Regions from separate parts of the Homo sapiens genome. Here region 1 is linked to region 2. The links come from fine-mapping of genetic effects on gene expression. Tissue or cell type: sun-exposed skin. Region 2 holds a variant in brackets; the other region holds the start of a gene. All regions are shown on one strand. Distances are from middle to middle.

Region 1 (2,648 bases), 73 kb before region 2:
AAGAGTTTATGTGGCTGAGTAGATGATAGAAATTTCTAGAAGTCTTATGTTTCCCACAAATTATTTTATAATTTGCATTATTTATGTAGTGTTGAAAGGGAGATTTGGTTGGCTTGCCTTAAATTATACCTCCCTTTCTCCTAATACATATTACTCTCAGGTATATTTCAGAGACAGAAAAATATTTTGAATGACCTAGGTCATCTGTTTTTATGCTGACCACCCATTAGAACCACCTGAGAAGTTTCTGGAAAACAAGATAAAATACTGCAGATGACTCACTGATCTCCAAAAGTTAAGCTTCAGTTATTCTAGGGGTAATTTTCTAATCTCCTCAGAGTCGGGTGATTCTGGCCAGATGTGCAGCCAGGGTTGAGAAACACTGATTAGGGTCCCAGTGGGGTAAGGAACAGATTATATGCTCATGATCTCACATACTCTTTCATTCTCATTGTGCCTCTGAGCAAAACCATTGAAATATATGTGCTCAGATTTAACTTCTTCTACCCCTAAAACAAGACACTGAATGGAAAAAATATATCTTATATAATAGAAGGACCCAAACTATGAAAAAGAGGATAACAGCCAAAAATGGAGGAAGTATAGTAAAGTTCCTCAATGCAATAATATGCAGCAGCTTTAATTTATGATTACAAAGAATTCACAGCAACATGGAAAAACCATAGACTGATATGGAGGAAATGAATACAAACTTGTCCATAGTGTAGGGACGCAACTATGAAAACTAAAGTTATATGTGCATACACACACACACACACACACTCACACACACACACACACACACACACACACACACACACACACACACACACACACAAAGGGACGATCCCCAAAATATCAATAGAGGCTATTTTGGTGGAGAATTTGGCTTCTTTCAACATTTTTATACTTCCACAGTATTTTTTAAACTACCATGTACATGATAGGAAAATAACATTTATAGTAGAACAAAACAAATTTACTTTTAAAAAATTACTCCTCTGACTATTATGTGATCATCAAGTCATGATGCTCAACACTGAATTAACAAAACAAAGATTAAAATGCCCACCTGAAGGTCTCTGTCTTTCAGCTGCCCTGGCTTCTGCTGCCTCTATCTCTCCTGCCTTTCTCCTCCGAGTAATTCAGGTTGCTCATTTCAAAGAAAAGTGAAAGAGCAAATTATATTTATGAACAGTGCCAACCAATAGCAAGCAAGTCAGGAAGTGTAGCAGGTCATCTGTGCTTTTTAGAAGCCATTGTAGATGTTAGTGCAAGCTCCCTTCTCAAGAAGGGTGAAAATTTCCAGTTAGGGGCTATGTCTAAAAAGAAGAAACCTAAAATTGCCCTGCCCCTCTAATGACTGGTTTTTTGTCATTATCTTTCTCAAGAGATCAAGCGGATATGATGGGTTAGAGTCAGGAATTTTAAGTGGCTTTTAGTTCTCCTAAATGGTTTCTGTTTCCATGGCAACAGAAATAGCAACATTGCCTTACACACATAGCACTTTAGACTTTTTTAAAGCACTTCCCTCACTCACTTGCATTTTCAGCTCACTTGCACTCAGGCAGAGACCTTATCCAGTCTGCTGAAAATGTTCTGTCAGAGGTCACCAAAAACCTCCTTGTTGCTTACATAAAAAATCCTTTCTCAGTCCTCACCTTCCTTCCCCTCTTGTTTGCATAGTTGACCATTGCCACTTTCCTGAAACTTTTCCCTTTTTTCTCTGACTTTCCTGGTTCTTTTTCTACCCCTCAGATTGCTCTTCTTTGCCTCTCTTTCTGATGCCTCTTCTTCCACCCCTTTTCTACGTGTGAGCTTTCCCCAGAGGTCTGTGTTCTGACTTCTTCCCTCCTTCTCTTGCTTTTACCTATCTGATCCACAATCATGGCCAAATTTAATGTGGCCCAGGTGGAGCTTTTCTCTTCCTCTCTTAGTCCTGCATCCCCCCATCTACCCTGTCTAAGCAAATGGCACCACAATAATTTAGCCAGTTCATCCATCCATAAACCTAGAAGTCACTTTTAACTTCCCTCTTTCTTCCACCACCCACTTCTGAGCCAACAAGTTCCATTTGTTCTGCCCATAAAATATGTTCCAAATCGAACCATTACTCATCTCTCCATCACTGTTCAAATCCTCGTTTCCTGCATAGAAAGCTGCAGTAACATTAAGCAAGAAAAATAAGTAAAAGGGATCCAAATTGGAAATAAATAAGTAAAATTTTGTCTGTTTGCAAATGATAAAATCTTATATGTAGAAAAACCTGAAGATACCATGCACACACACACACACAAAACCCCAATAGAACTAATAAGCAAGCAAATTGAGCAAAGTTGCAGGACAGGAAATCAATACACAAAAATCAGTTGCATTTATATACACTAACAATAAACAATCCAAAAATGGAAACTAAGGAAACTATTCCATTTATAATAGCATCAAAATGAATAAAATACTTTGGATATATACTCAGTAGTAAGGTTACTGAATCTTGTTGAGATCTCTGCACTCTCATGTTTACTGTAGCACTATTCACAATAGCCAAAATATGGATCACCCGAAATGTTCATCAACAGAAAGATGGATGAAAAATGTGGTATATATTCACAATTGAATACTATTTACTGATTTAAAAAGAACAAAAT
Region 2 (2,853 bases):
TCATGCCACTGCACTCCAGCCTGGGCAACAGAGGGAGACTCGGTTTCAAAAAAAAAAAAAAAAAAAAGGTACAGAATGTTAGAGGAGTGAAGAGAAAGCAGTAATCAGGAAATAGTATTATAGCTTTAAAAAGATTCCCATTTTTACAAAGGTGAAAGTCAAGGCAAGTCAGATATGGTTCAAAGGGGGAAGCAGGTTCTATCAACGGGCAGTGGTCAGGTGGTGTAGGACCTGAAATATCCTGGTCTGACTTTCAAGGTGCTCCTCAGCAGACAGTGAATCATCTTAGTGTCTCCCGCTCACTCAGGCCCTATGGTGTAACTATCTTCGTCCACCCTGGGCACTTTGTCCAGCCACCCACCAGGCAGGAAACCTCTTGACCTGTCTGTATGAACAGACAGCTGCTGTAAACTGGCATTCAGCTTTTGCTAGACAGCTCCTGGAGGCCAAAGTCATCTTCCAGACCTAGAGAAGGATGAGTTATTTTCCAGGAGGACTACTCTTTAAAAAGCATGACACAGGCATATCACAGCCATGCCCTCTACGTGCCCCTGAAGGAAAGCTGTTAAAGACCAGAGCAAGAGTGGAGAGATAAGAAAAGCTACCTGAACATAAATGACCTCTTGCACACTGTTCTGTGGCCAGAGCATGGCCCCAGGGGAGCTGTGTTCCTCCTCCAGTGAATTAGACCAGCTGTCCACAAACTGAAGGATGTCACCCCTTAGATGGGATGTGTGTTCCACATCTTCAACTTCTGCATGTCCTCCTTAAAACTGATTGTCAGGGAAATTCCTGGGGTAGCTCAGTGGGCTGCTCCCCTGCCTCTTGTACCTTTCACAATCTCCCTTCTCTCTGTTTACAAGAGAAGACATACACCTTTTACCATCCTGAAACTTATAATACACCGTCCTGGTAATCCCAGCACTTTGGGAGGCCAAGGTGGGCAGATCACCTGAGGTCGGGAGTTCGAGACCAGCCTGACCAACACGGAGAAACCCAGTCTCTACTAAAAACACAAAATTAGCCAGGCATGGTGGCACATACCCGTAATCCCAGCTACTCGGGAGGCTGAGGCAGGAGAATCACTTGAACCTGGGAGGCGGAGGTTGCGGTGAGCCAACATCATGTCATTGCACTCCAGCCTGGGCAACAAAAGCGAAACTCCATCTCAAAAAAAAAAAAAGAACTTGCACCAAACAATGGGACAATAAGAAAATTTAGAGCTAAGACAGGAGAGTCCCATGAAAGTAAAACTCCTTTTGCTTTCTCAGAAGGCACCCCTAAAGGAGCAATGCCTGGGTCACCTGCGCCAGCTCTATCTAGTCACCTACCTCAGTGTTAGAAGTCAGCAGCGCAACGATGTCCTCCAAAGCACAGTTCTGTTGAATTTAAGTCAGTCAATGATATGGTTTGGCTGTGTCTCCACCCAAATCTCATCTTGAATTGCAGCTTCCATAATTCCCACGTGTTGTGGGAGGGTGCCAGTGGGAAATCATTGAGTCATGGGGGC[A/G]GTTTCCCACATACTGTTCTCATGGTAATGAATAAGTCTTTTCAAACAACTTTTCAACAATGTTGAACAGAATAAGTCTTTTCAACAATGAATTTCAAAGTCTTTTCATCAAACATTTGATGCTTTTATAGGGGTTTCCCCTTTCGTTTGGCTCTCTTTCTCTCTTGCCTGCTGCCATGTAAGACGTCCCATTGCTCTTCCTTCATCTTCCACCATGATTATGAGGCGTCTCCAGCCACATGGAACTGTGAGTCCATTAAACCTCCTTTTTTTTAAGAATTACCCAGTCTCGGATAAGTCTTTATCAGCAGCGTGATTAATACAGTCGAGTAAACTATTTTTCTGTCAGAAAGCAATTCAAAGTTAGCTGATTGGTCTGACAATGAGGGCTGGCTTTGCCCACCAGGTGATACAGATGGTGTTTTTCATAAACTAAACTGGATACGCTCAATCTGCAACTATTTAAAGCTCAGAAAATGTGTGGGAAAGAACATCCTTTGCAACTATTAAGGTGATAAGGCAAATTTAGATGTCAACTTAAAAACACGCAAGGAGGCACATGATTATTCACAATTATTTTAGGGGGGTATGTGAGAAAACTCTGGAAGACCATTGAATCTTCCAGTTCTCTTCAAATTAACCAGTGTTGGGAAGTTCGTTTAACCACCTAGAGTTGCGATCCTAGTTTTGCTCTGCAGAGGGCAGCATTGCTAAAATATTATTCGACTGTAAAGAAAGGATTTTTTTTTTTTTTTTAACAAGCTCTTTCTAGGCTAACTTACCTCTCCTGTCTTGTGGCATTTTTTTTTTAATTCTTAATTTTTAATTTTTGTGGGCACATAGTAGGTCTATATATTTGTGGGATACATGAGATATTTGGGTACAGGCATGCAATGCATAATAATCACATCATGGAAAGTAGGGTATCCATCCCCTCAAGCATTTATCCTTTGTGTTACAAACCATCCAACTATACTCTTTTAGTTATTTTTAAATGTACAATTAAATTATTATTGACTATAGTTACCCTGTTGTGCTATCAAATACTAGGTCTAAGCTTCAGCATTTATGGCCTCGAGGAGAGAGTTGCTATTTGACCAGAACAGAAATACAAAAGGCCTCTGTGTCAGGCACATTTTTCCAGGGCAGAAACAGCATTTTTTTTTCCTTTACTAAACAATTATCTGTCTTTCTGGAGTCTAACACAGTGCCCAGCACCAACAAGCGAGTGCCCAAAAAGTGTATGATGGATGAAAAGTAGTGCAGTCTCCAACTCCAGGGAAGCTTTGGGTTAAACATGCAAGACATGGCTCACCAGCATTCCTGAAACTCTAAAACCTGCC

Evidence for each region. PIP is the estimated chance that this variant, and not a neighbour inherited with it, causes the effect.
Region 1: it holds the start of CYSLTR2, and the variant in region 2 is fine-mapped to the expression of CYSLTR2 in sun-exposed skin (GTEx, PIP 0.98).

What each region holds. Positions count from the first base shown.
Region 1 is chr13:48,652,442-48,655,089 of GRCh38, reverse strand. CYSLTR2 (cysteinyl leukotriene receptor 2) reads right to left here and starts at 1,161. Exons shown (of 5, transcript NM_001308476.3): 1 at 1,073-1,161.
Region 2 is chr13:48,579,745-48,582,597 of GRCh38, reverse strand. All of the region lies in intron 1 of LINC01077 (long intergenic non-protein coding RNA 1077), which reads left to right. LINC00462 (long intergenic non-protein coding RNA 462) reads left to right here and starts at 1,697. Exons shown (of 3, transcript NR_051983.1): 1 at 1,697-1,757. It overlaps LOC105370202 (a long non-coding RNA gene), which reads right to left and starts at 1,407. Exons shown (of 3, transcript XR_941958.4): 1 at 1,332-1,407; 2 at 606-852. The variant A/G (reference allele first, on the strand shown) is at 1,511.